Linked DNA regions of Homo sapiens: region 1 is linked to region 2. The links come from fine-mapping of genetic effects on gene expression. A gene starts in region 2. The other region holds a variant in brackets. All regions are shown on one strand. Distances are from middle to middle.

Region 1 (4,395 bases), 30 kb after region 2:
ATTCGAATTTTTTTTTCCTCAGGGTTTTTAACTTTTTCAAATTTGGAATTCCTTCTCCATCCTGGCCTTTTTATTTTTATTTTTATTTTTGCTGTTAACCTATTTTTATTTTGTTTTATTTTTATTATATTTTAAGTTCTGGGGTACATGTGCAGAACGTGCAGGTTTGTTACATAGGTATACATGTGCCATGGTGGTTTACTGCACCCATCAACCCGTCATCTGCATTACGTATTTCTCCTAATGCTATCCCTTCCCTACCTCCCTAGCCCCCAACAGGCCCCAGTGTGTGATGTTCCCCTCCCTGTGTCCATGTGTTCTCATTGTTCAACTCCCACTTATGAGTGAGAACATGCGGTGTTTGGTTTTCTGTTCTTGTGTTAGTTTGCCGGGAATGATGGTTTCTAACTTCATCCATGTCCCCCCAAACCACTCGTTTTTTAAATAGCATATCTCCAGTTTTAAAATTTGGGACCCATGACTTACTTACCATGTTCCTCAGATGGATGTGTCCAGGGAGAATACGGCAGGAAGGCAGGGTTTTATTTTTATTTTGTACAATTAAACAATTGTACTTGTGACAGGATGTCAGAAATGATATTTCAAGATACAGTGGACATGAAATTCTGAAGCTGGATCATCATATGAAGAATTTACAAAGGAAATGGTTGAGGATCTATCTGTTCCTTGACTTTTGGACTCTGAAATCATGTCAAGGGATAAAAAGGGGCCAGGATATGGAGAGGAGAGAGGATCTGTGAAATGATTTATTTGCCATATTTCCCCTTCATAGTGGGGAGGCATGGGAAGCTTACCTCCTCATTCTCAAGCCTAATGAGAAAGATACCCATGGAATCACCCAGGTAGGTCTGAAATGTATTCTCTGCAGTAGGGAGATACAGGGAACTGGGCCTGACTTAGGCTTGAGAAAGTTAAAGTGAGCTATGGTGGTAGGATAGAAGAGCCTATTTTAGGATTAGCCAGCCCTACAAAAGATCCAGGAGCCACATCTATATATATTTCTGTGGCCTATGAAAAACAGAGTGCTTGCTGGGCACAGTGGTGCATGCCAGTAGTCCCAGCTCCTCAGGGGGCTGCAGTAGGAGGATCGCTTGAACCCAGGAGTTCTGGGCTCTAGTGCACTATGCCCATTGGGTATTCATACTAAGTTCGGCATCAATATGGTGATCTCCTGGGAGCAGGGGATCTCTAGATTGCCTAAGGAGAGGTAAATGGCCCGGGTGAGAAATGGAGCAGGTCAAAACTCTGTGCTGACTAATAGTGAGATAGCACCTGAGAATACCCACTGCACTCCAACCTGGCCAACACAGAAAGACACTGTGTCTTTATAAAAAGAAAGAAACAATAACAATAAAATTAAGAAGAAAGAGACCTAGTATGGGGTTGCCTTGGTTCCTGTACTATAGGGTCACCAGGAGGGGCAGATAAAGGCACCAAAAAGCTGGAGTTGCATCTATATTCCTAGGGGCAGAGGAAAGAGGTGCACTGGAACACCTGGAGGAGAGATGCATCTGCCTTGAGCACAACACCCTAAGGAAACAATTCCCAGAAATAAACATCCAAAAAGTCTACAAAAATGCTCATGGGAGAACAAGTTAGCTTTAGCCACCTGTCAAATTCAGAGAGTAGAAAGCAGCTCAGCCAAATAACTTTCTGTTCCCTTACCTATTCTCCCTTTCTTCCCTCTGCTCTCCTACTTTGGCCTACGTGAGAAGCAAACAGACGCTAATGAGAGGAGGAGGGGATGTGGAGAGAGAGAGAGAGAGGGAGAGAGAGAGAGAGAGAAACACCAATCAAGTCCCTTCCCCAAGTCAACACCTTAAATGGATAAGTAAGAAGACAGACTTACCTTTGGATAAAGACTGGAGGTCTGATTAACATCTAGAATGGGCATCCTGATTTAGAAATTGAAACTATACTTGTAGCCTAAAGTCATTATAAGACTCTCCATTACCTAAAGAAGCAGAAAAATCATGGCTATTTGCAAACTTTAATGTACACATGAATCACCAGGGCGCTGGGTGATTCATGTGTACATTAAAGTTTGCCAATATCCACGGCAAATGCAGATTGTGATTCAGTGGTCTG[G/C]GGTGGGGCCTGAGAGTCTGCATTTCTGAGAAGCTTCTAATTGATGCCAATGTTGAAGGTTCTTGGGCCACACTTTGAGTAGCAGGGTGCTGTGAGCCAGGGAGGATTACCCACACTGAATACATTTTAAATTGATTTTGAAAGATAAAAGAGCTACATTTTGATCAGGTAATGAATTGTGCTTTTAACATACAAGTTACACTTTATTTAATTTTTCAAACATTATTATGAATATAGTCTATTTGAAAACTTCATACTGTATTAAAAAAATGTTAAGCCTATTTTTCTTGCCATCCTCCCACCCACTCCCTCAGTGGGTTATAGATGTAACCACTATTTAACAATTTGATGTGCACTCTTCCAGGCCTTTTATTTTAAAAAAGAGCTTTTTAAGTATATTATTATATTGATCAGGATTCAATTTCAGAGAACAGAATTAACTCTAGCTGGATTAAGGAGGAAGGAATTTATTACACAGTATTTAATAGCTTACAAAATGGTTGGGAGAGATGAAGAGACAGACTGTAGTTTGTGTTCTCAGCAAAGTTTCCCAATATCAGTTCAACAAGGGAGTTGCTGCCTCTTCTGAGATCAGAAATTTGCCAGCCTTGGGTCACACAGCCATTGCTATGATTAAGAAAACAGTCACGATAGAAGAGACACTGCTATTGCTACGGTGCCAAGACCATACCTGTCTTCTATGGTCCAAGGAATGGATGCTCAGGGCCCTGCCCCTAGCAACACAAAGCTAGATCCTGGACACTAGGTAGGTACTATTGCTGGTAAAGAAAAACCAAAATCTTTCTCAACCAGGTTTCCAGAAGCAACATCAGCTGCAGTAGTACAGCCTCCGCTTCACTTTTACCTTCCATGTGTTGTATAAGGGCTTCTGAATGGCCAGACTTAAATTACACCAAGCACCTCACTGCAGGGGAGTCACGGTCCCTTTTACATTTCCAGGCTCTGCAGTTCAGAAAGGCACTTGAGATGGTAATGAGTGGATGTTGACACCACCTCTACAGACAACAAAGGGGTTAGTCCTAGAATTTTATTGCTGGAAAAGACTTAGGGATTTAGTCTAACTTGTTAATTTGAGAGAAAGGAAATTGAGACCCAGAGAGCTGAAATGACTTGATAGTGATGGAATAGAAATAGAACTCCAGCCATTTACATGGAGTTGAATGTAGCCTAACGAGATAGCTTCCTCTCCAGGACTCGTGATATTCTCCAGCCCCATTGGGCTTATTGCCTATAAACTTACCAGAGAGATTGTTTTCATCTAAAGCACACCTCTTTGCTCCCCAACTTTTGTTTATGCAGTTCATTTTGGGGACCAAAATGCAAAACCTTATACCTTATATTTATCTCTTTTAAATTATGTCTTTGTTAATGTAATAAGACAATTTTTGATCCCAGTACAGTCCCTCCCAGCTTGTAACACATGCATATTAGGTAAGCATATCTTTATGCTCTAATCAAAATTACTTTTTTAAAAAATTGAATAAAGCAGATGAAAGAAATTTGGGTGGAGCTCTATCTCACTAGAAATCTATTTCTTGATCGCTACCTATCTGTGTTGTACTCTTTTGGTATGATTGTTTGACCAATTACCAGCCTAGTTGACTGTTCTCTCTCTATTTTTTTTGTATTTTTTTTTTTTTTTTGAGACAAAGTCTTAATCTGTCACTCAGGCTGGAGTGCAGTGGCACGATCTTGGCTCACTGCAACCTCTGCCTCCTGGGTTCAAGCAATCCTCCTGCCTCAGCCTCCAGAGTAGCTGGGATTACATGTGCTTGCCACCATGCCTGACTAATTTTTGTATTTTTAGTAGAGACAGGGTTTCGCCATATTGGCCAGGCTGAGTAGTTGACTGTTCTCATATTGAGCTCATAATTATCTCCCTTGTCCACAAGGAGGTCTGTCCAGAAGCCTAGGGAAGTACCCAGTATATGAACATTTCCCTAATCTGCCTGTCTACTCATCCTGTCAAAAAAAAAAAAAAAGAAAACCAAAAAAACAGACTATCAGGGCAAGACCATTCTTGGTAAGCTCATGCTGGCACCTAGTGGACACTGCTTCTTTTTAGGAGCATTTACAAGCCCTTCCTGCAGTCATCTGCCCTGAGAATATCATTTTGGATTGGAGGCAGCCTTAAGGTTTGATAGCCTGAAGGTATAGAAGCAGGTGGGACTTGCCCATGGAGTACCCCTGTAGCCCCAGTAAGGGGATTTGAGATCCTCTGTGAGAGGGCTGTGAACATGAAGCCTGTGAGGGACAAGGACACGA
Region 2 (4,395 bases):
TCTATTCTAAATAGTTCATTGATTAAGCTTCAAGCGAGTAAATTTTCCCAGCAGCTTAATGGAAATTTCAGTGTAAAGAACTTGATAGCTTCACCCCAAATCTTCAGAAGGCCCCTTGCCTTCCATATTGACAGTGGGGTCCTGCAAGGATTGCTGCAGATGGTATAGGGGAGGGTCTCTATCCAGGTAAGATGCTATGGTAAGGACAGTAAAGGAGAAAGGGTGACATAAGAAGAGAAAGATATCATGATTTGTTTAGAAGCCCCTTAGCCTCTGCCTAACCCTGAGGGTCTATGTTTTATGTAGTTTTAGGAGTGGCGATGCATCTAAACACATTTTATTTGTTTAATTCGTACACCTGTAATCCAGCACTTTGGGAGGCCGAGGTGGGCAGATCACGAGGTCAGAAGATCAAGACCATCCTGGCTAACAGGGTGAAACCCCATCTCTACTAAAAATTCAAAAAATTAGCCGGGCGTGATGGCACGCTCCTGTAGTCTCAGCTACTCGGGAGGCTGAGGCAGGAGAATGGCTTGAACCCTGGAGGCAGAGGTTGCAGTGAGCCGAGATCGCGCTACTGCACTCAAGCCTGGGCAACAGAGACTCCATCTCAAAAAAAAAAAAAAATTATTAAGGCTAGCTAGGCTTTTCTTCCTCTTCTGAGGCTTCACATCACATCAGCTGCAAGGCTTACTGCCTCACTGCCTTCCCCAGCACCCATATTCAACCACCCCTGGACTCCCTGGGGCCACCTGCACAGAAGCGTATGCCTCTCGATAATGGAAATTTTATTCTAAATGCTTATTTTAGACTCAGAAAGATCCACTCTCTTATGCCCGTGTGGTTGATATGTCTGCTCTGACCTGTGGTTTTTGCACAGTTGAAGGGTCATACTGTCCCTCTCTCTGCCTTCAAGGAGGACCAAACTACCTTCCCCCATTTCTCTCTCTCTCTTTTTTTTTTTTTTTGTGAGATGGAGTCTCGCTCTGTCACCCACACTAGAGTGCAGTGGTGCAATCTTGGCTCACTGCAACTTCTGCCTCCTGGGTTCAAATGATACTCATGCCTCAGCCTCTGAAGTAACTGGGACTACAGCCATGCACCACCATGCCCATCTAATTTTTTTTTTTTTTTTTCAGTAGAGATGGGGTTTCACCATACTGGCCAGGCTGGTCTTGAACTCCTGACCTCCAGTCCAGTGATCCGCCCACCCTGGCCTCCCAAAGTGCTGGGATTACAGAGGCATGAGCCACAGTGCCTGGCCTACCTTACCCCATTTCTGATGGCTCATTTCATCTCCAAATAACCTACTGGAGGCCTGGTGGGTGTTATGATGACAGAAAGGGGAGGAATGTGGCCACTGTGAAAAGACACATGGGCCCTACCATTAAGTAGGCCTCAAACAAATAGCAAACATTCAGAGGCAGGGACAATGGTTCCCAGGAGGCCATCTGGAACGGAAGGGAGAGGCTGTAGCCTCTATATTGCTCCTATTCCTGAGTCTCCTCAGGTTTCTCAAGATATCGGATGCCTCCTATCTCTAATTTCCTCAGGATCAGTGGCCTGAGCTTTGGCTATGAGCCTAAGCCCTGAGCTGACTGCTGGATCCTCTGGGAATAGATTTTCTTTTTCCTCTACTCTTTCCCAGTGGATTCTCCCTGCCTTGTACTCATATTTCCACTGAGACTGAGCAGACTTAGTCATGCTCCAGAAATAGAGAGCTGACACGAGTCTAGAGAAATTTGCATGCAAATTTGTGTGGGCTTTGGATAGTCAGAGCCTACTAGAGACTAATCTGATATCTAACTTGGTGCCGTGACTAATCTTCCTTCTCTGTCTCGCTACCTTCTAGTCACTAGAAACATATAAGTGTTGGAATGGGCAGGACATTTGAATTCTCATCATTGATTCTCCAGTGATTTTCTATTGGCCTTCAAACAACATCCCACCTTCTGTCCCCAGTTGCATCACCAGTGAAAAGGGTGGTTGTTGCACTGACCTTTCCCAGAGTGTACATGAAGGCCAGCTGGCTATCAGACAATGACATGCTTTGACAGGCCCCTGAGCTCTGTGAGTAAATTCTTGAACAGCTGAGAGTGCTACCATTTTGTCATAGCCCTAAGGGTGCAGATGATGCTGAAAGCGTGTTGGCCAAATCTGAATGATGAAAGCCAATTACAAACTAGAAAATGAAAACAGACCCCAGATGCAAGGAGATGAGACAGTTAAATTTACTTCCTCTTTTCTAATCTGAGAGGTTTCATGTTGAAGAAAATCAGTGTTGGGGTTGCAGGAGACCTAAACACAGTCACCATGAAGCTGGGCTGTGTCCTCATGGCCTGGGCCCTCTACCTTTCCCTTGGTGTGCTCTGGGTGGCCCAGATGCTACTGGGTAAGTAAAATATTTGAATATTGGTGTGGGAATGGAGCTTTGCTTACCTTGGGAGAAAGGACCAGAAGGAAAGAAACATGGACTAATTCTGGCCCTCCAAAGAAGCAGTATTCAGGTGGAATAAGAAGGGTAGGTATAAGAAAGTTTGGTGTACAGGATTGAATTACTTTCTGAATATAAAAATCTTCCATCCTGAAAGTCCCCTCTGATCATGATATCCTCTCTAGCTCTAATCTCAACTCTTTTCTTTCACTTGTGAGACAAGTTTTCTTAAAAGAATAGTTTGCACTTGCTATCTCCACTTCCTCACTTCTCACACGCTCCTCAATGCTTGCAGCCTGGCTTCCACTGGAATTGGTTTTGTCTAGGGCACAACGATCTCTATATTGACTGGGTTATGGCATGCTTTTCAGTTCATATCCTGCTGGACTTCTCTGCTGCACTGGGCTCTGTTGATCACTTACTCCTTCTTGCATTCTCTACTACCCTGGCTTCCATGGCACCATTTTCTCCTTGTACTACATGGACTTCTCTTGATCCCTTAATAGCTTCTCTTCTCTTCCCCTTAAACACTAGTGTTCTCTATAGTTATAGCCTTGCCTCTGTACTCCTCTTTCTTTACACAATCTCCTTCATGAGCTTATTTGTCTGTTTAATTTTTGCCACTATAACTCTGTATTTAAGAGTCCCAAATCATATCCCCAACCCTAACCATGCTTTTGAGCTTCACATTCAAATATCAAGCTTCATACCAGACATATCTACCTACATATCTCACAAGTGTCTCTGCACCATGTGACTAGAGTTGAACTTATCTGTCCTTTTGGCCCCTGCCTCATCTAATTCATTTTCCACTTTCTGATCTCAGCTAATGACACCAGCATCTACCCTTACAAGGCCATAAACCTCAGAAACAACCCAGACTCTTCCTTCTTTTTCATTCTCTAAATCTGATCAATCATTAGGTTTGGCCAATTTTACCTTCTAAATTGTTCATAGAAGCAGTCCCTTGCCTGGATCATCACTAATGTCTTAGGACAAGCCCTCATCCTCTATGACTTGGGCTATTCCAGTAAATTCCTAACTAATCTCCTCGTCCAAACCTTGTGTTCTTGAAATGAATTCTGTACCCTGCAGACAGAGTAATTTCTAAAACTCAAGTTTACCAGCCCAAATTCTTTATCATGGCACAAAAGGCCAAGCAGCCTCTACTTTTACCCTCTCAGCCTTGTAACTTATGCTCTAATAAATCTCAATCAGTTCATATTTACATACTCACACACCAGACTCTTGCCTGTCTCTAAGGCTTTGCTTATACCACTATCTCTACCTGAAATGAGTTCTTTCCATGGCACCCTACTCTCCTTCTCCTTGCAAATGTGTAGGTACCCCTAAAGACTCAGCTTAAATGGTATCTTTTCCAGGTAGCTTTTCTTGAATGCTTCTTTCTGCTCCAATGGCTGCTTGCGATACATTTTTCTTATTATAATATTTTCCTACTTATGCTGAAATAATATTTTCATCTACCTGTGTCTTCCACTAAATTGAGAGCTATTTGTGGGTAGTGACAATGTTTTTTTGTTTTTGTCTTGTGATAAGAACTGCAGACTTGGAATCAGATACTCCTGTTTCAAGCCCCTCTTCTATTTACCAGCTCTATGTCACTTTAGAAAATCACTTTTTCTATTTCTGGTTCAGTTTTCTCATTTGTAGAATGAAAATAATAATACCTACCACCTAAGGTTTATTGAGTGAGTTCCCAGTAACCCAACAAGATTTTATTTTATTTTATTTTATGTTTTGAGACAGGGTCTCGCTCTGCCACCCAGGCTGGAGTGCAGTGGTGCAATCACTGCTCACTGCAACCTTGACCTCTTGGGCTTAAGCAATCGTCCTATCTCAGCCTCCCAAGTAGCTGGGACCACAGGCAAGTGCCACCAGGCCTGGCCAATTTTTTAAAAAATTATTTGTTGAGACAGGGTCTCTCTATGTTCCCCAGGCTG

What was found. PIP is the estimated chance that this variant, and not a neighbour inherited with it, causes the effect. A credible set is the group of variants that fine-mapping cannot tell apart.
Region 1: its variant is the best candidate, but not a certain one, in a credible set for the expression of FCRLA in fibroblasts (GTEx, PIP 0.72).

The regions. Positions count from the first base shown.
Region 1 is chr1:161,734,759-161,739,153 of GRCh38, forward strand. It overlaps the pseudogene RN7SL466P. Among named protein-coding and RNA genes, the nearest start is that of DUSP12, 13 kb to the right of the region's middle. RefSeq lists enhancers at 1,343-1,452, 4,240-4,395. The variant G/C (reference allele first, on the strand shown) is at 2,110.
Region 2 is chr1:161,704,952-161,709,346 of GRCh38, forward strand. FCRLA (Fc receptor like A) reads left to right here and starts at 2,278. Exons shown (of 5, transcript NM_032738.4): 1 at 2,278-2,392. The coding sequence starts at 2,314. RefSeq lists enhancers at 814-1,033, 2,574-2,753.